Homo sapiens: one gene and its partners. The protein of the gene in region 1 interacts with the protein of each later gene in a pairwise test. Each region holds a gene or a part of one and is shown on either strand. Other genes may lie near its edges. The genes, in order: PEX1, MYL11, ANXA8 and MSH5.

The links.
Region 2: the proteins of PEX1 (region 1) and MYL11 interact in binary tests that used the Homo sapiens proteins (3 or more experiments, as listed by UniProt).
Region 3: the proteins of PEX1 (region 1) and ANXA8 interact in binary tests that used the Homo sapiens proteins (3 or more experiments, as listed by UniProt).
Region 4: the proteins of PEX1 (region 1) and MSH5 interact in binary tests that used the Homo sapiens proteins (3 or more experiments, as listed by UniProt).

What each region holds. Positions count from the first base shown.
Region 1 is NC_000007.14:92,486,500-92,490,527, forward strand, and holds the end of PEX1 (peroxisomal ATPase PEX1), read right to left. Parts: intron 3,413-4,028; coding exon 3,215-3,412; intron 2,925-3,214; coding exon 2,794-2,924; intron 1,043-2,793; coding exon 958-1,042; 3' UTR 526-957; downstream 1-525. UniProt on the Homo sapiens protein: Component of the PEX1-PEX6 AAA ATPase complex, a protein dislocase complex that mediates the ATP-dependent extraction of the PEX5 receptor from peroxisomal membranes, an essential step for PEX5 recycling.
Region 2 is NC_000016.10:30,369,819-30,377,805, reverse strand, and holds the start of MYL11 (myosin regulatory light chain 11), read right to left. Parts: upstream 3,005-7,987; 5' UTR 2,949-3,004; coding exon 2,946-2,948; intron 1,987-2,945; coding exon 1,894-1,986; intron 1,662-1,893; coding exon 1,586-1,661; intron 1,384-1,585; coding exon 1,279-1,383; intron 1,187-1,278; coding exon 1,108-1,186; intron 153-1,107; coding exon 104-152; intron 11-103; coding exon 1-10. Other genes in the region: TBC1D10B (TBC1 domain family member 10B), read left to right, coding at 7,623-7,987. UniProt on the Homo sapiens protein: Myosin regulatory subunit that plays an essential role to maintain muscle integrity during early development. Plays a role in muscle contraction.
Region 3 is NC_000010.11:47,481,091-47,487,977, reverse strand, and holds the start of ANXA8 (annexin A8), read left to right. Parts: upstream 1-3,862; 5' UTR 3,863-3,957; coding exon of another isoform or gene 3,958-4,044; coding exon 4,045-4,065; intron 4,066-6,887. Other genes in the region: protein FAM25G, read left to right, coding at 570-703. UniProt on the Homo sapiens protein: This protein is an anticoagulant protein that acts as an indirect inhibitor of the thromboplastin-specific complex, which is involved in the blood coagulation cascade.
Region 4 is NC_000006.12:31,750,004-31,757,035, forward strand, and holds part of MSH5 (mutS protein homolog 5), read left to right. Parts: intron 1-3,297; coding exon 3,298-3,436; intron 3,437-3,563; coding exon 3,564-3,626; intron 3,627-7,032.

The DNA of each region.
Region 1 (4,028 bases):
GGGTGACGTGTCTCAGTTTAATACTAGTGATCCACTAAGTCTTTGTTTCTATCCCCTGGGATTCTGAGCTTTGCTGGTTTAGAACCTTGAACCTCCTGGGAGCAAGTGATCCTCCTACCTCAGCCTCCCAAGTAGCTGGGACTAGAGGCATACCATCATGCATGGCTAATTTTTTTTTTAAGAGATGGGGTCTCACTATGTTGCCCAGGCTTACTTGTATATTTTAATTAATGTTCTCCTTTTTGCTGTTCCCTTACCCCATTACTATATAGTTAAGATATTAGATACGCAGATTGTATTGATGGTGGCTAACTTTATAATTTAGTTCATATATGAGAGAATATCAAGATAAAATCATAACTGGAACTAGGAGAGGAATGGATGTCATTTAAATATCTTGGGCTTGGAGCTGGATGTAGTATAGTAGAGGGATGTGATTTCATTTCTGGTTGAGCGGATAATTAAATGTATTTGAATTATGTGTAAATTTCACATTTTTTGATATACAAAGAACAGATAATTGTATCAGTAGGTAATAGGATATTTTATTTCAAAACAGTGAAGAAGCTGCTAAGCATAAAATTTGTCAAATGCTACAAAGGTGATGAATATACAACTGGGAATTCCAAGAAATTTAAATTTAATTACATTCTTTATTATCTTTTCCTCAAAAGAAATAAATTAGTTCCACCATTTGGCTAATATTATTTCATTAAAGACTGAATTTAGATTTTAGGAAATAAAATATGGAATCTGTTATAATGTCCCAATTTATACTACAGTATTAATCTCAATCCTGATCATTACATAATTATAGCATTTACCAATCTGTGATTTTATAAATTAACCAAATTTGTTAAATTAAGAAGAAATTCATAGACACCATTTTTTTCCTGTTACAACATATGGAAAAGCCATCAAAAAACTTAACAGAACCAAATCAAAAAGAAGTATATTTTATGCTAAAGTTACTTTCTGTCCAGGTCGAAACATTGTTCCACTTTGATTTTTTCTCCTCTTTGGATTTTGAAAGCTTTCATATCTGAAAAAAGAAAGAGATAATTTAATATGTATAAATACTACCATTACAAAACAAAAGATAATGGATTGTTGGCAAACACAATTATATTTTAAGAAATGAACGGGAAATAACAAACTAGAAAAAAAAATTCCAGTCACAGAAATTAAAAAGAATTCTTACAAATAAAGTTGCACTCCAATAGAAAACGGAGCAAAGGGGATGAAGAGACAAGTTAGAAAAGATAAAATACAAATGACAATGAATAATATGAAAAATTATAACTTCTACACTTTAATCAAAGAAATGTAAATTATTGATATCATTTTTCTAAAATCAAAAGGGCCAAGTTTAGAAAAATACTGCAACACACAATGTTAGTGATGGTGCAGTATATCTGGCAGGCAATTTGGCAATACATTTCAAAAGCCTTAAAAAATGTGAGCTCCCTGTTATACAATTCCACCTCTATCCTAGTGAAACAATTAGATATGTGCATATATTCAGCTGCAAGAATGTTCATTACCACATTGCCTGGGAGCAATTTAAATGTCTAAAAATTGGATATTGTGGCATAGCTACACTATAAAATGACATTTAAAAACAATAAAGTAGTTAACATTTAAAATGTAAAACAATTTTCAGGATGTATGTGGATAAAGGGGGACTGCTATATAGCAATATGTACAGACTGTTCTTACCATAATAGGAAAACATATATAAGCATATAAACAAATATGCTTTGGGAGGTGGTGGGCTTAACAGAAATTTGTTTCCTTATTTTTCCTTACCTCTGTTTTCTGATTCTTCTTTAATAAATACATAGCACTAACGTATGTACACATACATACATACTTCAAAGTACTGCAAAATTAGATAACAAAAGGTAGCAGCTTCTAAAGACCAGGAATAAACATCTCTTAAATTGAATCACACTGAATCATTGACCTAGAATGGTTCCCAGTCCATGGGTCTCAGATGCATAGGTGGCCATAAACTCAATTGCAAGGATCCTTTAAATCCAATGTATAACAAATGTGGTCCACAAATGAATAAATCTGAATGTATTTAAATGTTCTTGAGGTCAATAAAATATTAATATAAATTATTTTGAAGGCAAAACAGGTATTTTTATAACAAAATTTTATAAACTATACATTAGAATCACTTTCAACTTTTAATTTTCCTTCTTATTTCTTCGAAGTTACTAAATTTTTTTTTTTTTTTTTTGAGACACAGTCTCGCTCTGTGGCCCAGGCTGGATGGAGTGCAGTGGTGCAATCTCGGCTCACTGCAACCTCCACCTCCTGGGTTCAAGCAATTCTCCTGTCTCAGCCTCCCAAGTAGCTGGGACTACAGGCACATGCCACCACACCTGGCTAATTTTTGTATTTTTAGTAGAGATGGGGTTTCCCCGTGTTGGTTAGGCTTGCCTCGAACTCCTGACCTCAGGTGATCCACCTGCCTTGGCCTCCCAAAGAGCTGGGATTACAGGCATGAGCCACAGCACCCAGCCCAAAGTTACTAAAATTAAATGAGTCCATTATGAATAATTCAAATATAATCAAATGAACTGGTTAATGAAAACTCAATTTTGACTTCTGTACTTCTGACATTTTGGGGTTTTTTAATGCATAGCTACGACACATATTTTTTGAATTAGCTTTTAAATATTCAAAATATTTTTATTTTAAACACGAACTTTAAAGGTTTAAGTGTAATACTATGTCACTTGTAATAGTAGCTGTACTTCCAAAACAGAATCTGTTACTTACAGCTCAGCAAAATTCTTCCAGTCATCTTCACTAATGGATGGTCTTGTGTGACCAAGTGCAGTCATTAAATGTGACTGACTAATAGCCAGTCTGGTTTTGATTGGTCCTGGTTGGTTCATGGATTCGTCCTCCTTAAGTAAAAAAAGAAATTGACGAAGAGTTAAATTAAGGATGTAAAAAAAAATGTGGTAGTCCAGTTGTTACTTCTTATTGTCAGTTTTTTCAAGAGACCATACGTTCTCTTCCTTATAAGATAATGAAACATTGAAAGCAAGGAAGCACATAACCATGACTGAGTTAATGTGTTCTGGTCCCTTGTTTATAAATATAGCTCGTTTATAAGTCAAAGAAATATATATCAAAAGGGTGAAACAATTTTTAAGAAGTTTTAACAATTATAATGAGGGGGAAAAAGCCATACTCCACTTTGGCTCCGGTATCTGCCTTTGATAATACTGATATCTGCCCTCAGTTGATCTCTTTGTTCTTGTGTAAGTTCTTGGCAACCCTCTTGTGAAGCTGTCCTTAACACTGGAGGCTGTGAAAACAACTGGTCTTTCCCAGGAACTCCAGGCAAATCCTGAGTCATGGAGCTTGGTGCAGAGAGACATTGTGAGCTCTGCATGGTAAATTGTAGTAATGAAAGATGGAAGGAAGAGGGGGAGAGAAAAAACTATGTGTTTACCAAATATAAAAATTAAACATTTTAAGCAATAAAACATTAACATAGATAAGTATACATGTTAATTAACTGAAATTAAGCAAGCTGAAAAGTTGTTCATCTTTTATAAAGGTTCACTGATACCTGTGTTATAGAACCACCATCAAGTGAAAATTGCCATAACACAGGGTAGGTTTTTTTAACTTTGTTGCTTAAATCCAACACACTAATGCCCAAGGACAGGTTTCTTCATTTTCAGAAAGTAAAGTTATACTAAGTTTCTGGGACATTTCTAAATAGAATAAATTAAAAACAGAATTAAAGACTAAAATTAAACCACCACCTTACTGTTCTTGGGAATAAAAATGAATTGCTTTTATATTTTTAAAGTCTGAGTTAGGCTAGGCATAGTGGCTCACACCTGTAATCCTAGCACTTTGGGAGGTCAAGGCACGCAGATAGCTTGAGCCCAGGAGTTTGAGACCAGCCTGGGCAATATGGTGAAACCTCGTCTCTACAAAACATACAAAAATTAGCTGGGCATGGTGGCATGTGCCTGTAGTCCCAGCTACTC
Region 2 (7,987 bases), on another chromosome or scaffold:
TGTTCTTGATCTGGGGAAAGACGTAGGGGCGTCTCGCACAGGCCCTTAGTCTCCCCGGCCCCAGCCCCTTTGCTGCTCCGGCCCCGCCCCGGTCCCCACTCACCTCCTCCTGGGAGAAGCGGTCACACTGCGTGGTCAGCAGCTCCTCCAGGCTGGAGAGAGGTGACACAAGGGGAGTTGCGATTGGGTTCCTGGTTCCTTTCCACTCCCTCGCACCTCATCCCCGATGCCAGCCCCAGCCTCCCCTGAAAACCCAGGTCACTCTACTTCCTTCATTGGCCTCCCAGACACTCGCTTTTGCCCTCTCCGCCCACATTTGCTGTGAAAATGCAATCTTACCGCCCATTACCACAATCTTAACTACTCCCTTACCTCTGGCAGTGCCTAACCCTTCGTAGGAATTTTTGGGTTTTTGTTTGTTTTGAGACAGGGTCTCACCCTGTCGCCCAGGCTGGAATGCAGTGGTTTGATCACGGCTCACTGCAACCTGGAACTCTTGGGCTCAAGGGATCTTCCTGCCTCAGCCTCCGGAGTAGCTGGGACTATAGGTGTTTGCCACCACTCCCGCGAATTTTTTTTTTTCTTTTTTTTGGAGACGGAGTTTTGCTATTGTCGCCCAGGTTGGAGGGCAGTGGCGTGATCTTGGCTCACTGCAACCTCCGACTCCAGGGTTCAAGCGATTCTCATGTCCCAGTCTCCCTAGTAGCTGGGACTACAGGCGCCCGCCACCACGCCCAGCTAATTTTTGTATTTTTAGTAGAGACGGGGTTTCACCGTGTTGGCCAGGCTGTTCTTGGACTCCTGACCTCACATGATCCGCCCGCCTTGGCCTCCCAAAGTGCTGGGATTACAGGCATGAGCCACTGTGCCCGGCCAGCCCACGAATTTTTTAGTTAAGTTTTTAGAAACAGGGTCATGCTGTGTTATCCAGGCTGATCTCAAACTCCTGTCCTCAAGTAAATCCTCCTGCCTCTGCCTCCCAAAGCACTGGGATTATAGGCCTGAGCCACAGGGCCCAGCCTTGGTAGAAATTTAAGGAGGCTGTCAGTGTGGGAGCAGCTGGTGGAGTGGGGGAAGGGTCGGAAGGGTGGGGGAGCCGATGCTTACAACTTCTTCTTGATGGTGCCCTTTCCCTCAGGGTCCAAGACCTTGAAGGCTCCGGTGATCACATCCTCAGGGTCGGCACCTGTGGGGGTCAGAGGGCACATGAAGCTGATGGGTCCCTGAAGGGTCTGGGAAAAGGCAGCCGGGGCCTTGGACCCAGGACACTCCACTCACCCTTGAGCTTCTCCCCGAACATGGTCAGGAAGACGGTGAAGTTGATGGGACCGCTGGCTTCCTTCATCATGGCATCCAACTCCTCATTCTTCACATTGAGGCGGCCTGGAGGGGGTTGGGGGAAGCATGGGCTGGAGCAGGCTCCTGGGGCCGGGCCTGCGCTTCCCACTAATTCAGCTGATCCCATTCATTTTTCAGCTGGGTAGACTGAGGCCCAAGGTGGAGCTGACAGGGCTGGAACCCAAGGCCACTGAATTTCCTAGACTCTGCAGCCTTGAATATTCCCACCTGGGGGTAGGGGGCTCACCCATGGCTGCGAAGGTGTCCCGAAGGTCCTCCTTGTCTATAATACCATCACGGTTCTGGTCGATCACAGTGAAGGCCTGGGGAGGGCCGTGGTGGGGAGGGTTAGGTCCCCCATGGCCCAGCCTCAGCATCCCTACCCCAGGAGGATCAGATGCTGGCTCTCAGCCAACTGTCCTCTTCCACCCCAAGCAGAGAGGGGAGGAAGGAATTCTAAACCTTTCCCCTCCTTCAAGCAGGTGCACATTCCAGGGAGAGGGCCAGCAGGGCTGCTTTTGGTCAGCCTTCCAGTTTCCCCGTCCCCTCACCCACCTCTTTGAACTCCTGGATCTGAGTCTGGTCGAACATGGAGAAGACGCTGGAGCTTCCGCCCTCTACTGTCCTTCTCTTGGCCCTCTTGGGTGCCTGGAGGGTGAGGGTTGAACAAAGGGGCCCATGGACCAGTCCCTCCACCTCTCTGGGGGCAATGGATTAAGAGTCAGAATTCTTCGAGTCCCTGTTCCTAAAGCAGCCCTTTGGCCTGAGTCTCCCCTTCCTTGGGACCTCTTTGCTGAGGGGGCTTGCTTTGATTGCATTCCCCAAATTCCCGTCTGTGGCTCCTGGGTCTCCAACTCTCCATCCCCCACAATGGGTGGAAGCTTCCTTATCTTCTCAGTGTCCTGAGCCTAGCTCCTCTGAGCCTCAGACTTGCTGTGTGACCCCAGCCACTCATTTGCCCTGTTTGAGCCTCTACTTTTCTTTTCTTTTTTTTTTTTTTTTTGAGACAGAGTCTTGCTCTGTCACCCAGGCTGGAGTGCGGTGCTGCGATCTCGGCTTACCGCAACCTCTGCCTCCCGGGTTCAAGCGATTCTTATGCCCCAGCCTCCGTAGTAGCTGGGATTACAGGCATGCACCACCACGCCCAGTTAATTTTTGTATTTTTAGTAGAGACGGGGTTTCGCCTGTTGGCCAGGCTGGTCTCGAACTCCTGGCTTCAAGTGATCCAACCACCTTGGCCTCCCAAAGTGCTGGGATTACAGGCGTGAACCACAGCACCTGGCCTGAGCCTCTACTTTCTCATTTGTAAAATGGGATGGGAGTTATTGCCTGGCTGGTGCCAGAGGGCCTTAGGAAGATGGAGTACAGGAATGAATGGATCAGGCTTTGAGAGGGACTGGGCCCCTGTGAGTTGAATGTCTGGGCGGATTATCATTGATTGGATCCTTTAGGCCATCACACAGTCTGTTTTCCATCAGTGATGCCGAGAAAGAGATGAGCATCCTTTTAACTTTTTGTTGGACTGGGAACCAGCTACTTTCTTTCAAAGGGTGAGGCTGCCCTGAGGTCTAAGGGATCTGGGCAGGGGTTGGAGGATTCTCACTCACCATGTCTTCAGTCTCCGGGGGGCAAGGCAGCGGCTCCGGCTGGAAAGAAGCAAGGAGTCAGCATGGGGCAGTCCCTCTGGGGTTATATAGTCCTGCCCCAGGGAGCCCTTAACATACCAAGGTAACCTTAGCCCTGCGGGTGCCCACCCCAGATACCAAAATAGCCCAACTCAGGGCCTCTCCTTTCTTGGAGGGCTGGCAGCAGCTGGAGCCCAGCGGGGAGGAAGGGGGGAGCATGTCTTGCGATGCATGTCTCACTAGGGCCTGGGCAAGAAGAGATGTTCTTTCTCCCAAAGAGGGGCTGGAATGTGCCAGAGTTTAGAGGGGACGCAACCCAAGGCATCATTCTGGGAGATAAATGAACCAGATCCTGTACCCCTGAGTGGGGTGGGCTCAGATTTAAACCCAGTAAACGTCTGGGTGCAGTGGTTCACACCTGTAATCCCAGCACTTTGGGAAGCTGAGGCAGGAGGATTGCTTGAGGCCAGGAGTTCAGGACCAGCCTGGGCAACATAGTGAGACCCCTGTCTCCCTTTTTTTTTTTTTTAGACAGTCTCGCTCTGTCTCCCAGGCTAGAGTGCCAGTAGTGTGATCTCGGTTCACTGCAACCTCCACCTCCCCTGTTCAAGTGATTCTCCTATCTTGGCCTCCCGAGTAGCTGGGATTATAGGTGTGCCACGAAGCCAGGCTAATTTTTTTTTTCTGTATTTTTAGTAGAGACAGGGTTTCACCGTGTCGGCCAGAGTGGTCTCAATCTTCTGACCTGGTGATCCATCCACCTAGGCCTCCCAAAGTGCTGGGATTACAGGTGTGAGCCACTGCGCCTGGCCCCCGTCTCTATTTTAAATTAATAAAATAAACCCAGTAAACATGTATTGAACACACACAGTGTGCCACGTGCTAGGCTGGGCTTTGTGGATGTACTTTGGCAGACACAATCCCTCCACCCCCACATGGTGGAGTTCATAGTCAAGTGTGTGTAAGTGTGAGGGTGGTGAGAAAGAGCCATCTGTGGAAGCTGAGGGATCAGGTGGGTCTCCTACCTCCCTTCAAGGAGAGGGGAATTTTTTTTTCTTTTCTTTCTTTTTTTTTTTTTTTGAGATGGAGTCTTGCTCTTGTCACCCAGGTGGGAGTGCAATGGTGCGATCTCGGCTTACTGCAACCTCCGCCTTCTGGGTTCAAGCGATACTTCTGCCTCAGCCTCCTGAGTAGCTGGGATTCCAGGCACCCGCCACCATGCCCAGCTACTTTTTTTTTTTTTTTTTGAGATGAAGTCTCGTTTTGTTATCCGGGCTGGAGTGCAGTGGCGTGATCTTGGCTCACTGTAACCTCCGCCTCCCGGGTTCAAGTGATTCTCCTGCTTCAGCCTCCCGAGTAGCTGGGACTACAGGCGCGTGTCACCACGCCCGCCTAATTTTTTTGTATTTTTAGTAGAGACGGGGTTTCCCCGCGTTAGCCAGGATGATCTCGATCTCCTGACCTTGTGATCTGCCTGCCTCGGCCTCCCAAAGTGCTGGGATTACAGGCGTGAGCCACCGTGCCCGGCATCTAATTTTTTGTATTTTTAGTAGAGATGGCGTTTCACCATGTTGGCCAGGCTGGTCTTGAATTCCGACTTCAGATGATCCACCCGTCTCGACCTCCCAAAGTGCTCAAAGTGCTGGGATTACAGGCATGAGCCACCGCGCCGAGCCAAGAGGGATTTTTTGAGGCAAGATGCTTTGTGGTCTCAGGTTTTGTGCTGGGCCTTGGTTTCCCCTCTGTAAAAGGGAGATGTAGTTCCCATCCCACAGAACTTGCCTTATAACTAATAGAGACAGGAATGAATGCAGAAACTGACATACCAGAGCTGGTCAGGAGCCCAGAAGTGGAGGGCGCAGCAGCCCTGTCTAGGAGTATGGGAGTGGCTTCACGAGGGCCAGGGAGTCAGGTGCAGGTGGAGGAGCAGATGTGCTGGGCGGAGGGCATGGCCTGAGCAAAGGCCTGGAGAGCGGAAGATCAGAAGTGTTCAGGTGGCCAGAATTGTGATGGGGCTGGTGACCAGCCCCTGAGGGGCCTTTGCCAGGCACAGGACGGAGACCCTGGGGAACCTTGGAAAGGTTTCATGCAGAAGAAGGATGTGATCTAGTATGAGTCTAGAATATTTTCTCTGGGTACTGGTGTGGAGGCTGGAACTCAAGAGGGGAGGAAAAGACCCTAAAAGGACAGCCAGCTGGTCACTTTCTGTGAGGTGCCTTGATAGCCAGTGGCAGCTCACTTTATTCTGGCCAAGAGCCAGCTTGGCTGATTGTGTGACTTTGATGTACCCTCTCTTCTCCCTCTGGGCCTCAGTGACCCAGTCCCCTCCATGCAGCAGAAGTCTGGAAAAATAGTGGCTGAGGAAGCCCCAAGTTGGCAAGGACAACCATCTCCTTCTCCTCCCGCTCCCTCTAGGACCCGATGTCCTGAGGAAGATGCCTCCCCCTGCCCTGTCCCCCCTCCTCCAGGCCCATGCCGATACCTCTAAGACATTTTCTTTTCTGGGCACTGAGGCCCCAGCCACCTGTTGTCTCTAAGAAGAGAGAAGGAGCCACCCTAAACTTAGCAGCTGCCCTTAGCCTCCCACACCAGCCCCTCCCTGCCTCAGACAGCAGCTGCCTCGCCTTATAGGGTTACCACGGGGGTCCAGGCCAGGGAGGAGCCCACTTATTACTGGGTTCTGGGAGAGGAGGAGGACTCCAAAAAGGGGAATGGGAGGAGAGCTCAGGAAGCTTGGGTCAAACGGGAGATGGGAAAGGTGAGGAGAAGGAGATCAGACACTGAGTGGGAATTGACAGGACATGGGGCTGAGTTGGGAGTGAGGGACCTTAGAGGACTCAGAAACCAAGGAGGAGCTGAGAAGTCGGGAGCTAGGTCTCACTGGAATTCCAGGATGGTGGATGCTATATGGAAATCAGAATATGGGGGTCAGAGAAAGAAGAGGGCGTTTAGAAGTTGGAAGGTTGGAGCTCATAACGTCAGGTCTTTATGCTTGTGATCTAAGGACAACCTGGAGCGCTCATGAGATTGAGGTCGGGATTCTCAGTGGAACATGAGGAGCACAGAGGGATGTGGCAGTGAGGGGAGAGGGGTTGACGGGACTGGGGCCTTGGATCCCCAAAAGAATAGTAACACACATATGGGGAGTTCATGGTATTAGGGATTCATGGATTTGGGGTTTGAGATCCCCACTAGAAGAAATGGAGGGGGTACTCAGAGGGATAAGGTCTGAGGAACTGGAGCCTGGGTTCTGGGGAGGAGCTCAGATAGATGGGAACTGAGGAGAGGGACTTGGAGGTTGGGATTCCCGCAGGAAATGGGTGAAGCAGAGATATGGGTTGCTTATAGGATCTGGGGGCTCTGGCTATTGCCACCTGGGCCTGGAGTGTTGGGGTTAGTTGGGGGCCGAGATCGGAGAATTATAGAGTAAAGGATGAGAGTACTGGGTCAGGGCACTGGATCTGTGGTGGGGCTCAGGGTCCCACAGACCACCAGAGTGTGGGGCTCAGGAGCTGAACGAAGAATAGGGGACCGGAAAGGACTCGAGAGGGGGCAGCGCGGCACTCATTGGTTGAGGGCTGCACTAATGCCCCCGCCCCTTCTCCGTGCTGTCCCCAGCTGTCACCCTCCCATAAGGCTTGTCTCCGGTTGTCACCGACTATCCCTGGGCTGGCACCGCCTGCTGGCAGCATCTTTGCCCTTTGGATGCTCCCATTGGCTGAGACAGCTATCTATTTTCCTGTCCTGTGGCCAAAGTGGGAGAACACGATCATTGGCTGACGGGGCGAATTAATCTCTAGCTTGCCCCGCCTCCTCCCAGCTGTCATTCCTTACTGACCATTTTGGGAGACCTAAAGAATTCTTCAGCTCTTCCTATTGACTGCGGATGCTGTCTGTCACCGCCTAAATAGACATCACTGCCTGTCAATTTGACCTCCACCTGCTCCCCTTTTCATTGGCTCCCTTTTTACCATTCCTATTGGTTAAGAAGCCTCCAGGCCCCACCTCTTACTCGCACAGCCCTGCCTCCTCCTCCGCCCTTCCGCGGTCATTCACCCTTCAGTCATATTCATTGGCCAGGAGGTTCAGACCCCTGCGTTTCTATTGGTTATTTCTTTCGTCCCATCGCCCCCTGCCTTTCCTCGTCCTCTGATTGGTCTTACAGCCCTAGCTTTCTCCGTTTCCTCTTTCCAGATGACCCACCCCTTTTTCGCCTCCAGCCCCGCCCACGATTCCAACGATTGGCAGAAGCCCAGTTCTCTCTCTCCCACTATTCGTCCAAATCCTCTGACTAGGCGGGAGAAAAAAGGAGCGCGATGAGCCAGTCCGCGCGCAGGCGTGGAACGCCGAGACGCTGGCGCGGAGCCGGCTCTGCGGCGTGTGCGCAGGCGCGAGGTCGGCGGCTCGCCCCCAAGCAGGAGGGAGGGGGCGGTGGCGAGAGCGCGCGAGGGGGTGAGAGGGCTCGAGAGAGACCCCGGCGCGCGGCGCCCCCCGACCCCTGCCCCGCCTCTGCGCGCCCAGCGGCCGCTCCGCCCCCGGCGCGCGCCGAGCCGCGCCCTTCGCCCTCTCCCCTTTCTCGGCTGGCCTCGCCGGGAGGCCCGAGGGGCGGCGCCTTCTGCGGCCTCCCCGGCGGGGGGATGTGAGGGGCGGCCCGCGGCCATGGAGACGGGCACGGCGCCCCTGGTGGCCCCGCCGCGCCGTCATGGCGCCCCCGCGGCCCCCTCGCCGCCGCCCCGGGGTTCCCGGGCCGGGCCCGTCGTGGTGGTGGCTCCGGGACCTCCAGTGACTACGGCCACTTCGGCCCCCGTCACCCTGGTGGCCCCCGGGGAGGCGCGGCCCGCCTGGGTCCCGGGGTCGGCCGAGACCTCTGCTCCGGCCCCGGCCCCAGCCCCGGCCCCAGCCCCGGCTGTCACGGGCAGCACGGTGGTGGTGCTGACCCTGGAGGCCTCGCCCGAAGCCCCAAAGCCGCAGCTCCCCTCCGGCCCGGAATCCCCAGAGCCCGCGGCAGTGGCTGGAGTTGAGAC
Region 3 (6,887 bases), on another chromosome or scaffold:
TTAAGACTGAGGATTTCAGCATATGAGTTTTGAGGGGGAAGACATCGTAAACATTTAGACATAGTAATAACATCAGAGACTTTGGCCTAATCTTGGAGAGGGGAGAATCTTTAGAACTATGACAAAAAAATCAGCGCCATAAAGGAAATATTAAGTAAATTTGACAATCCAAAACTGAAATTTTCTATAGCCAAAAAAAAAAACACTATAAACCAAGCCAAAAGAAAAATTATACACTGATGAAAAATATTTGTCATAAAAATGATAATCCAATATAACAACCCAATATAAAAATGGTCAAAAGACATAAGCAGGCATTTTCCAGAAAAAAGGATAAGCAGGCAATGTACCCATGAGTAGATGCTCAGTCTCACTCACAGTTGAAGAAATGCAAGTTGTTGGGGAAATTAAAACCAAATTCAAATTCATTCTGCAGTAATCCTGCTGCCCTTGGTCCCATCGGGCCACTCCAGAGACTAATCCATTAAGATGGCCACATCCCACAGGCCACTCAAGGGGACACAAGTTCAGCAGGTGGATCACTAGGACATTCTTCCTCTTTCCAACAGCCATTGCTGAAGCCATAAAGAAAGCCCAGGAGTCAGGGGACAAAAAGATGAAGGAAATCACCGAGACAGTGACCAACACAGTCACAAATGCCATCACCCATGCAGCAGAAAGTCTGGACAAACTTGGACAGTGAGTGCACCTGCTACCACGGCCCTTCCCCAGTCTCAATAAAAAGCCATGACATGTGTACATTGAGCGCTGGATTTATTCCCATTTGGATGGAAACACTAGGCAAAGTATTTTCTTGTTGACATAACATATTTTACATATTTATGGTGTACACTTAAGTATTTATTACATGCACAGAATAGTGATCAATCAGGGTGTTTGGGGTGTCTATCACCTTGAATATTTGGTATTACTATGTGTTGGGTACATTTCAAGTCCCTTCTTCTAGCTACTTTGTTTTTTTGTTTTTGTTTTTGTTTTTGTTTTGAGATAGAGTCTTGCTCTGTCGCCCAGGCTGGAGGGCAATGGTGTGATCTCGGCTCACTGCAACCTCTGCCTCCCAGGTTCAAGCAATTCTCCTGCCTCAGCCTCCCAAGTAGCTTGGACTACAAGCGCAGGCCACCATCTCTGGCTAATTTTTATTATTATTATTTTTTATTGTTTTTATTTTTAGTAGAGATGGGGTTTCACCATGTTAGCCAGGCTGGTCTCAAACTCCTGACCTCAGGTGATCTGCCTGCCTGGGCCTCCCAAAATGCTGGGATTATAGGCATGGGATACTGTACCTAGCCTTCTAGCTACTTTGAAATATACAATACATTGCTGCTAACTATAGTCACCCTAGGTGAAGTATTTTTCAACAGAAACACTTTGCATGTCCCCCGTGTCTCCTCTGCTGAGGTGGACACTGGCACTGGGGCCCCTGCTGCTGGTTGGATAGGTCCTCATGATGAAACAGATGCTTCTCTGTCATGCTAAGTAAGATCTTTCATGTCAGGAAGGGGCTCTTCTGGAAGAATAGTTAGTGTCTGTGCTTCATTTCCTAAAAAACTGTTTCACCAGAAACTATATACAACTTTCAGGTGCCTCAGTGCTTCAAGACATGCTAAGGGAGGACCCTCATTTGTCTTGCATGTTTTTGGGATTTTTCTTGAGATGTTCTTGCAGGACTCAGGGCAGATAACAGACCAGCTTGATGAAGAATTTAGCAAGGAAGGCCCCCACTGAGCTGCTTCCTGTTCTCGCAGAGATCAGATAAGCATTTCTGCTGGACGGTTACAGAATCTGGTCAAGGAGAGACTGAGTCACTGCTCATCATCCTAGAAGCTGCTGTTGATTTTTTTTTTTTTTAAAGACGGAGTTTCACTCTGTTGCCCAGGCAGGAGTGCAGTGGCATGTTCTTGGCTCACTGTAACCTCTGCCTCCTGGGTTCAAACAATTCTCCTGCCTCAGCCTCCCCAGTAGCTGGGACTACAGGTGCCCGCCACCACTCCTGGCTAATTTTTTGTATTTTTAGTAGAGACGGGGTTTCACCATGTTAGCCAGGATGGTCTCGATCTCCTGACCTCATGATCCACCTGTCTTGGCCTCCCAAAGTGCTGGGATTACAGGCGTGAGCCACCGCACCTGGCCCAGAATATTTATTTAGAGACTGATGTCAGGCCTAAGTGTTGATAGTGGGTAGTAGTGGGCAAGATGCCTGGCCCTCTCTCCTTCTCATGAGCAAGTCAGTATCATAGAGGTTAAACATATCTTTAAGTAGCATTTAACTTAACATTTTTTAATTAAAAAAAAGAGAAGTAATTTGTAAAAATATTGCATCCCCTATTTCTCTTGCTGGAAGCTATTTGTTCTTAGCAGAAATGAGAAAAAAAGGTGTTTTGCTTAAAAAATAAGTGAGTTGCTCACCATACTTCTGGATCTCATCTAGAATTGGACTCACAGTTTGTGAACAGCCCAGGTATAGCCAATGTCTTAGCTTTGGAACGCTTGCCACTTTCCAGCTACAGCTGAACCTTATATCCTGGTTTGGTTCCTGATGACTTTCAAATTCTCCTGACCCAAACGCAAGCTCAGAAGCACAAGCACATTGTTGGTGGCAGTACAGACTGAAACACCCTCTTTGGATGGCAGTTCCTCTCACAGGACTTTATTCTCCAGGTATGCACAGGCACACACAGGTGCCCAAAGGATAAACACACAGATCTATTGTAGCATATTTGTATTACTGAGAGATTAGAAACATCCTAAAATGTTAACCAAATCGCTTGGATGAAAAGTTTTGCTCTGCTTATTAGGTTTGGCGTACAATATGGAGGTGACATCTGTTACTTCCAGTGTATTATAGATACTTTAGCTCCAAAAATGATACCTGTACCTAGATGGGCACCAAAAGGGAATGGTTAACAAATATTGCATATACAGGGGTATGGGGCAGCTCCGGGGCTGGGGATGGCGGCGGCCAGGTTTGCAGCGGCTCCAGGATGAGCGGGTGGATCCCGGGAAGCGTGGTGAAATGGGCTGGCTCCCGAGCCAGCCGGGAGGACGCTTACTACAGCTGCTCAGAAGCACCACTGGAAGCTCAGATGTAGGTGCCCCAGCCAGAAGCAGAGAGGGGTTCAGAGAAGCTACAGAGAAGCCCCTCCTGATGCCCCAGGGAGCAAGCCAACTCCTTCCAGGCTCCAGGAACACCACAAAGCAATATGAAACCTGTTCATGAGAGGAACCAGGAATGCCTTCCACCAAAGAAACGAGACCTCCCCATGACCAGCTGCTCCACTAACCACACATCCTCCAGTGATGCCTCTGAATGGTCCCGAGGGGTTGTGGTGGCCGGGCAGAGCCAGGCAGGAGCCAGAGTCAGCCTGGGGGGTGATGGAGCTGAGGCCATCACCGGTCTGACAGTGGACCAGTATGGCATGCTGTATAAGGTGGCTGTGCCGCCTGCCACCTTCTCACCAACTGGCCTCCCATCTGTGGTGAATATGAGCCCCTTGCCCCCGGAAAAAAAAAATAATATTGCATATGCAGTTGATTAAATGGCATACTCCATGGCTATTAGGAGTGATGAAAATGGGCTGGGTGCGGTGGCTCATGCCTGTAATCCCAGCACTTTGGTAGGCCAAGGTGGGCAGATCACCTGAGGTCGGGAGTTTGAGACCAGCCTAATCAACATGGAGCTGTGTTTACTGAGTGGGGCTTTCGCAGGCTGGAGCTAAGAATTTCCAGTATGCGTAACAGCCACAGCCCAAATATCTGCCAGTGAGTTGTGTAATTCCCCAGAGCAGGCCTGGGCAGTGTCTGGGTGGGGCCTGGGAGCCACAGGAGATGCCCAAAGCCAGGCAGAGCCCGGGGGCGAGGGGACGGCAGGCAGGTGTGGCGCTGCCCTGGGCGGGCTTGCACCCCCACACCCAAGTGAGCGGCCTGCTCACTCCTCAGCTGCAGGAGCCAGACGTGTGGAGTCCCAGCAGAGGCCAACCTGTGTCTCTTCATCTCCCTGGGAAAGGTGCCCCCGAGGTGAAAGAGATGGCCTGGTGGAAATCCTGGGTAAGTGGGAGCTGGCAGGAGATTTGGGTTCCTGCATGGTGTTGGGTGCTGGTCACCAGGGAGTCCTGAGAAATGTAAAGTCGCCCTTGGCTGGGAGTGGCTCAGTCTACATTTGGCTGCCTCCTGGGCCAAGCATGGAGGGTGGGAAGGGGCCGAGAAGAAACAGTCCCAGGCCTAGAGTGCCCACGGCAGGGATGGGACCTGGGCCGGGAGACAGGCTGATGAAGAAATCTAGAAATGCAAGGGGGAAGCTGAGGTTTGAGAAGAGTCCAGGGGAGGGACCCTTGCAGGGGTGGGGCCACTCAAAGGAGGGGGTATCATGGTTGAGCCTTGTGTGTAAATGTGTATGGGGTGCACACACGTGTGCATTTGGGGAGAATCAGGCATACTGCTCCTGGCAGAGGGAACTGTGTGCAGAGGGTCAGAGGGCAGGGAGCTTGGCTTCGAGGGAAGCTGCTCAGCACAGCTCAAGGGTCCTGGTACCGGAGGAGATGGACCTGGGGAAGCAGGCAGGGCCAGGTCCTGAAAGGCCTTGCCTGGCAGGCTGAGGAGTTAGGCTTTACCTTAAGAGAAGTGGGAAGGCACTGAAGGGCTTTGAGCATGAGAGTAACCTGAACCTGCTGTTGGGGACCCATCAATGCCTTCACCTCAGGGATCAATGATGTTCATTTGTCAAGACTGGAGAGGGAAGAGGGGAAGCAGGAGGACCTGGCCTGCTAGAGCCTGGAGGAACCCGGGGCTCAGGGCAGCCCATCCCCAGCAGAACTGATGGGTTCTCGGGAGCTTTCCATCTATGGTTGAGCCTGAGGCCATCGCTGTGCTAAGGAGTTGAATATCCAGAAGGGGACAGAGGTGACATCTCCCGGCTGCCGGCTCTGCACACCCTTTTCCTTTCCTCCCAGGCAGCCTCAGGATGTCAGGGCTGCACTTTCTGTTTTGCAGATGATGAAATGAAGGCTCAGAGACACTGAGTGACTTGCTAGGGTCCAATGGCCAGCAGGCTCCAGTCAGAGAGCAGTTGGGTCTCTCTGCCCAGCCCCAGGTTCTCTGTGAGCTTTTGTGGGATACCCAGGCTTGTCCAGCTTCAGGGAGTCTCTGGATCATAGATGTCGCAACCCAAGCAAGTGTCCTCAGGGTCAGACATGCTAGGTTCTGGACAGGTGGGACAAAGAGGAAGCCAGGCTGAGGTGGGGCAGCTGTCCTGGCCCCCAGGGAAGCAGCCTTCTTCCAGGACAAGGGGCCATGGAGGCCTGCAGCTTCAACCAGACTGCTGGGAACCTGCCTTTGAGGAGGTGGACATGGCAGGGAGAGCCCAGTGCTGGGTGGTTTCCAAAGTCAGTTGCTGGCCAAGGCAGTCTGGCACTGGGCCTTGCACCCAGTGCAGCAGGACAAAGGGCTGTCCATGTAGGGACCTGCCAAATTGACAGGATCACTGTGACACTCACTGAGTCCCTACTCTGTGGCCGGACCCTTCTCTAAGCACCTCACATTCAATATCTCCCTTGAACCTCACAAGGAGTCTATGAAGTAGACACCAGTATCCTTATCCACAGATGAGGAAACTGAGGCACAAGTAGGCTAGGCAGGTGCCCGAACTCACTAGTAAGTGTGAGAGTCTAGGTGAGAATCTGAACAGCCTGACTCCAGGGCCAAAACCATACCCTGGTCGTCCATACCCCATGTGAGAGCTGGCTAGGGGTAGCAAGTTCACAGGTAGACCCCACCTGCAACAGCTGAGCTGCTAGCGAAGACCCAGTGTCCTCTAGGCACAAAGCTGGGCCAGGAACGCGATGGGAGGAGATGAGGGAGCCACTGGAGAGAGATCTGTCTGCAGGCAGGGTCCATCTGCACCTCTCTTTTTGGTGTTGCCTTTTCCTCTGTGTCTCTCATAGAGACAAACCCATCTCCCAGGCCTCTGGGCAGCCACGTAGCAGGGGAAGGCCAAGGCGTGGCAGCTCCCCTGTGCCTGTCACAGAACAAGTTATATTAATAGATGTAGTCACAGGCTGGTCTGAGTCACCTTTTCAGTGAAAATGTGCCTGTCTGGACTAGCACGGCCCTGGGCAAGACCCTGCAGGAGCCTGAGGCTGACCCTTCCTTCTCAGCAGGAGGTCTGGAGCTCCAGGACTCCACACTGATAGCCAGGGCTCCGATTCCCAGAACACTTATTTTCTAAAACCTTAGAGTGGGAAGTGAGACAGAGGCTTCTCAATGCAGCAAAATCAGAACCAGCCAGGGAGCTGCTTACAAATGCTGCACCTGAGACCTACCGCACCCCTGCGGGACTGCATGCTCCTCAGGGATGCGGTTACACAGCCTGGCCACTCGCTGGTGCACCACAGCCCCCGAGTGCTGGGGCAGAGGGAAGCCGGCAGGCACTGAGAGCTGAGATGCCTCCCACATTCCCAGATGACCTGCGTTCCTGTGGGTGAAGCTTCCTTCAGTGGAACGTTCCAGGAACACTCATTGTCTGGGAAAGGTGGAGTCATCAGTAGGGCAGGGGAGGTAGATAGAGCTCAGCTTCTGAGTCAGGCTGGGGAGTCCCAACAGCATCACTTACTAGCTGTGTAAGGGAGTCCAGCTCCCTTTCTGTAAAGTGAGGCATCAGTACTTACCTAGCACAACTGTTGAGGAAGCCATGACATAAGCATTGCTTCTAAAGCACCTGGCCCAGGTCTGGCACACACAAGGGGCTTGAAGTGCTAACAGGAGTAATAGCAGAGCGTGACTCCACAAGCAAGGGATATCGTGTGTGTGGACACCGATGAGCAATATCTGGGACCACACTGGCTCTCTCTGGATGGAATTTCCATAGGAATTAT
Region 4 (7,032 bases), on another chromosome or scaffold:
CCCACACATTCTTCAGTGCTTCAGGTGCAGATCTTTAATCTCAGCCACAGATGGGAGGGAGAGAATTCTCAGTGGAGAAGAGAGCTGGATTTAAGGTCGGGGAGGAATGCGTATTCCCCAAATGGAATCAGACAGGGCATGAGATCATATAACTTGAAGAATCATCATATAATCTAATGAACTAAGGACAGGTGACATATTTATTAATATTTCTGTATACGAATTTATTTTAATTTATTAGGAAATACCTCTAACGTACAAAAAGATGTAAATAATAATATAGGGCCAGATGTGGTGGCTCACGCCTATAATCCCAGCATTTGGGAGGCTGAGGCAGGAGGATTGCTTGAGGCCAGGAGTTCAAGAACTAAAAGCTGTACAGGCACCAAGAATATGACTGAATGTCACAGTATGCTCTAAAGGGCACTGTCCTAGGAGTCTGGAGACATGATTTTGAGACTTAGCTGTTCTCATTGGCGGTATGACTTTGGGCAAGTTGCTTATCTTTTAACGGTTTCATTTTCTCAGTTGTTAAATTTACAGTTTGGTTTAACTAAAGTCTCTCCCAGTACGAGCAGGGCGTGAGTCAGAGATACCTAAGTGTTTAGTGCAGCGCATGTGCTTTCTAAAGTGGGGATGGCTATTTACAGACTGGCCTACACTGTTCTGGTGGGAGCCCTCAGTGACCAAGGAGCAGAGGTACCTGAAACCCACCCTTGAAGCCATCTGGATGCTCCGCTTCATTCAAATCTGGGGTGTTCTAACCCAAAGTAACTGGCCACAGACTGCAATGTAAGATACAAATCTTCAGGACCTAGTGTGTGCACATGTTGGCTCTTATATAAGATGGCATCCTTAGTACTTGTTCTATGTAGAAAAGAATTTGTGGGCTCACAAGTCCCTACAGAGTCTCACACTCTCATGGCCAATAAGTATACAGGGATACCCGGAATTAGACAAACACAGATGAGACATTTATTTCTGTATATGAATTTATTTTATTTATTTATTTATTTTTTGAGACAGAGTCTCACTCTGTCACCCATCCTGGAGTGCAGTGGCCTGGCTCATTGCAAGCTCCACCTCCCGGGTTTACACCATTCTGCCTCACCCTCCCGAGTAGCTGGGACTATAGGTGCCCGCCAACACGCCCGGCTAATTTTGTTGTGTTTTTAGTAGAGACGGGGTTTCACCGCGTTAGCCAGGATGGTCTTGATCTCCTGACCTCGTGACCCGCCCTCCTTGGCCTGCCAAAGTGCTGGGATTACAGGCGTGAGCCACCGCACCTGGCCTGAATTTATTTTCATTTATTAGGAAATACCTCCAACACACAAAAAGATGTAAATAATTAGCCGGGCGTGGTGGCTCATGACTGTAATCCCAGCACTTTGGGAGGCCGAGGCAGGTGGAACACCAGAGGTCCGGAGTTTGAGACCAGGCTGGCCAACATGGTGAAACCTCATCTCTACTAAAAATACAAAAATTAGCCGGGAGTGGTGGTGCACCCCTGTAATCCCAGCTACTCCAGAGGCTGAGACACGAGAATCGCTTGAACCTGGGAGGCGGAGGTTGCAGTGAGCTGAGATCGCACCACTGCACTCCAGCCTGGACAACAGAGCAAGACTCTGTCTCAGAAAAAAAAAAAAAGATGTAAATAATAATACTATCGGGCCAGGTGCAGTGGCTTATGCTTGTAATCCCAGCACTTTGGGAGGCCATGGCAGGAGGACTGCTTGAGGCCAGGAGCTTGAGAACAGCCTGGGCAACATAGCAAGACCTCGTCTCTATAAAAACTATTAATAGTAATACAAATGGCCAGGCGCAGTAGCTCATGCCTGTAATTCCAGCACTTTAGGAGGCTGAGGCAGGCAGATCACCTGAGGTCACGATTTTGAGACCAGCCTGGCCAACACAGCGAAACCCTATCTCTACTAAAAATACAAAATTTAGCTGGGCATGGTGGCACACACCTGTAGTTCCAGCTGCTGGGGAGGCTGAGGCAGGAGAATCACTTAAGCCTGTGAGGCAGAGGTTGCAGTGACCCGAGATCCCGCCACTGTACCCTAGCCTGGGCGACAGAGCAAGACTCCATCTCAAAAATAATAATAATAATACAAATATCTATATATCCATCAGCCAATTTAAGAATAAGACATGCCGGGCGCGGTGGCTCATGCCTGTAATCCCAGCACTTTGGGAGGCCGAGGCGGGTGGATCACAAGGTCAGGAGTTCAAGACCAGCCTGGCCAAGATGGTGAAACCCCGTCTCTACTAAAAATACAAAAATTAGCTGAGCACAGTGGCGGGTGCCTGTAATTCCAGAACCTGGGAGGTGGAGGTTGCAGTAAGCCAAGATTGTGCTACTGCACTCTAGCCTGGGCGACAGAGCAAGACTCTATATAAAAAATAAAATAAAAAAAAAGAATAAGACACTATTGGCCGGGTATGGTGACTCACGCCTGTAATCCCAGCACTTTGGGAGCCGAGGCGGGCAGATCACGAGGTCAAGAGATCGAGATCATTCTGGCCAACATAGTGAAACCCTGACTCTACTAAAAATACAACAATTAGCTGGGCATGGTGGCGCATACCTGCAGTCCCAGCTACTCGGGAGGCTGAGGCACGAAAATCACTTGAACCCGGGAGGTGGAGGTTGCAGTGAGCCGAGATCGCATCACTGCACTCCAGCCTGGCGACAAAGCGAGACTCTGTCTCAAAAAAAAAAAAAAAACGAAAGAATAAGACGTTGTTGAAGCCCCTTAAATGTCCCTCCCCAATCCTTTTTTCTCTGCAGTGTTGACCATTATTATGAATTAAAGCTTATCATCCCTAATGGGACAGTTATGTTTTCACAGGAAGAATATGAAAAGATGAATGTCTGTTGCTGTTACCCAGAGACACTTTCACAGCTAAAAAGACATACAAACTCATACTGACTCACCGTCTCTTACTCAGCCTCAGAGTGAGCTGCAGTGTTGGCACACAAATACCTCAACACACTGCTCTCCTTCTAAAATATTGACAAGCTCCGTTACTTATATACATGGAATGACACACGGTCTTATCCGTTGAAACTGTGATATGTAGACACAATTATGCTCACATCTAGCAATTTTCAGTAGATACATGTAAACACACCTGAATGGGTAGGACACTGCACTTGCCACTACATTCCCATAGCACATCGTGGATACATATTGCCACAATCCCCAGGGACTGCAAGCACACTTTTTGGCAAACTGAGATCAAGATGATAGATGTAACTTGTAGTACCCCCACCCAAACCCTCACTTCCAGGCTATGGTTCACACGTCCGACTCATGACCTGGGGGAGCTCAGTTCTCGTCTGGACGTCATTCAGTTTTTTCTGCTGCCCCAGAATCTGGACATGGCTCAGATGCTGCATCGGCTCCTGGGTCACATCAAGAACGTGCCTGTGAGCCCAGGGTGGAGGGCAGGGAGGTGGGGAAGGAGGTTGAGGGCTGATACTGGGCAGTGGGCTTCTTGAGGGGCATTAGAGTGAGGGAAGAGAAAACAGCGGCTGTAACCTTGTCTGACTGTAGCTGATTCTGAAACGCATGAAGTTGTCCCACACCAAGGTCAGCGACTGGCAGGTTCTCTACAAGGTAAGGCCTTCCTTCTTGAATCCCAAAAGTCCAGGTAAAGGCCCTCAGCCTGTATTCCAGACTGTCTGTACCCTAGACATGCTGTCCAATTTTATTCTACCCTCTTTTTTTTTTTTTTGGAGACAGCCTCGCTCTGTCGCCCAGGCTGAAGTGCCATGGGGCGATCTTGGCTCACTGCAACCTCCGCCTCCTGGGTTCAAGCAATTCTGCCTCAGCCTCCCGAGAAGTTGGGATTACAAGCGCCCGCCACCATGCCTGGCAAATTTTTGTATTTTTAGTAGAGACAGGATTTCACCATGTTGGCCAGGCTGGTCTTGAACTCCTGACTTCAGGTGATCCACCTGCCTCAGCCTCCCAAGGTGCTGGGATTACAGGTGTGAACCACCAGGCCCGGCCTCCCTCTTTTTTTTTTTAACTTTGTATTCAGGAAAATGTAAAAAATATTTAGAATAATATAATTAACCCCCATGTACCCACCATGCAGTTTCAACACTTTAACTTACGCCAATTTTTTTTTATTTCTTTTTCTTTTTTTTTTTAGACAGAGTCTTGCTCTGTCGCCCAGGCTGGATTGCAGTGGTGCGATCTCGGCTCACTGCAACCTCTGCCTCCCAAGTTCAAGTGATTCTCCTACCTCAGCCTCCCAAATAGCTGGGATTACAGGTGCCCACCACCACACTGGAGTGATTTTTGTATTTTTAGTAGAGATGGGATTTCACCATGTTGGCCAGGCTGGTCTCAAATTCCTGGCCTCAAGTGATCTGCCCATCTCGGCCTCCCAAAGTGCTAGGATTATAGGTGGGAGCCACCGTGCCCAGCCTAGTATGTGTCATCTATATCTTTTTCTACTTTCCCCTCTTGGATTATTTTGTGGGTTTTGTTGTCGTTTGTTTGTTTTTTTAAATAAGGTCCTGCTTTGTCACCCATACTAGAGCAGAGTGGTGCAGTCATATTTCATTGCAGCCTCTAACTTCTGGGCTCAAGCAATCCTCCCACCTTAGCCTCCAGAGTAACTGGGACTATAAGCCTGAGATGCTGCACCTGGCTTTCTTGGATTATTTTGAAGCAAGTCCCAGCCATTATATCATTTCATCCATAAATATTTCAGTGTAATTTCTTTTTTCTTTTTTTTTTTTTTTTTGAGATGGAGTCTCACTCTGTCACCAGGCTGGAGTGCAGTGGCATGATCTCGGCTCACTGCAACCTCCGCCTCCCAGGTTCAAGCGATTCTCCTGCCTCAGCCTCCCATGTAGCTGGGATAACAGGCACATGCCACCATGCCCAAGTTTTTTTTTTGTATTTTTAGTAGAGACAGGGTTTCACCATGTTGGCCAGGATGGTCTTGATCTCCTGACCTCGTGATCCACCCGCCTCGGCCTCCCAGAGTGCTGGGATTACAGGCGTGAGCCACCTCACCCGGCCAATATTTCAGGGTAATTTCTAAAAGAAAATTATTTTTTAAAAAGAATAACAGTATTGTTATCTTACTTTAAAAATTGTATTATTTGGTATCATCAAATATCTGAAATTTTTCTTTTTTGAGACAGGGTCTCACTCTGTCACCCAGGCTTGAGTGCAATGGCACAATTGTAGCTCACTGCAGCCTCAAACTGTTGGGCTCAAGCGATCCTCCCCCCTCAGCCTCCTGAGTAGCAGGGACCACAGGTGATGGCCATCACACCGAACTAAGTTTTTATTTTTTGCTTGCATTTATTTATTTATTTATTTATTTATTTATTTATTTATTTTTGAGACGGGATTTTGCTCTTGTAGCCCAGGCTGGAGTGCAATGGTGTGATCTCGGCTCACCGCAACCTCCACCTCCTGGGTTCAAGTGATTCTCTTGCCTCAGCCTCCCAAGTAGCTGGGATTACAGGTGCGTGCCACCACGCCCAGCTAATTTTGTATTTTTAGTAGAGACAGGGTTTCTCCCTGTTGGTCGGGCTGGTCTCGAACTCCCGACCTCAGATGATCTGCCTGCCCCGGCCTCCCAAAGTGCTGGGATTACAGGCGTGAGCCATTGCACCTGACCAATTTTTTATTTTTTGTAGAGACAGGATCTCACTATGTTGCTCAAGGTGGTCTCAAACTCCTGAGCTCAAGTGATCCTCCTGCTTGGGCCTCCCAAAGTGCTGAGACTATTGGTGTGAGCCACGATGCCCAGTCAGATGATGGCCCTAGTCCTTTTTAATCTACCGGTTCCTTCTCTATCTTTTCTCTCTTGTTCTTTCTTTCTTTTTCTCTTTTTCTTCTCCTGGCAATTTGTTGAAGAAACTAGATTATTATTTGTCTTATAGTGTTTTCCATTAGCCTGGATTTTGCTGTTTGCATTTCCTAGATGTTTTTGGCACATTTCTCTCTCTTCTATAGTTTCTGTAAATTAATATTTAGTTCTAGAAGCATGATTAGGTTCAGAGTTTTTTTTTTTTCAATACTGTTTTAGAAGTAGAGGAACATAATGTCTGATATGTCCGATTGTCTCTCTTTTTCTGATGTTGGCAAATGTTCTGATGTTTAATACCTAAATCTATTATTCATTTATTTATTTATTTATTTAGTTTGAGGTGAGTCTCCCTCTGTCGCCAGGCTGAAGTGCAGTGGCACGATCTTGGCTCACTGCAACCTCCGCCTCCTGAGTTCAAGTGATTCTCCTGCCTCAGCCTCCTGAGTAGCTGGGACTTACAGGCGCACACCACCACGCCCAGCTAATTTTTGTATTTTTAGTAGAGACGGGATTTCACCATGTTGGCCAGGATGGTCTTGATCTCTTGACCTCAGGTGATCCACCCGCCTCAGCCTCCCAAAGTGCTGGGATTACAGGCGTGAACCACTACACCCAGCCATCTATTAATTCTTTAGCAATTACAAAGTAGTAGCATTTAAATCTCTGATTCTTTCTTCATTTATTAGCCAGAAATTTCTGTAAAGAGAAACTTCCTTTTATGTACTATTTGGTTGCCAAGTGATAGAAATCATATAGAAATACAGAAAATTGCTTGATATTTCCCCCACTCTTTTTTTTTTGAGACAGAGTCTTGCTCTGTCACCAGGCTGGAGTGCAGTGGCACAATCTTGGCTCACTGCAACCTCCACCTCCCGGGTTGGGTTTCAAGTGATTCTCCTGCCTCAGCCTCCCGAGTAGCTGGGACTATAGGCGTGTGCCACCATGCCTGGCTAATTTTTGTATTTTTAGTAGAGACAGGGTTTCACCATGATGGCCAGGATGGTCTTGATCTCTTGACCTCGTGATCCACCCGCCTCGGCCTCCCAAAGTGCTGGGATTACAGGTGTGAGCCACCATGCCCAGCCCTTTTTTTTTTCCCCAATATGGAACGCTTCTTGAATTTGTGTCATCCGTGCCCAGTGGCCGTGCTAATCCCTGTAACCTTCGAAATTTCAGTATATG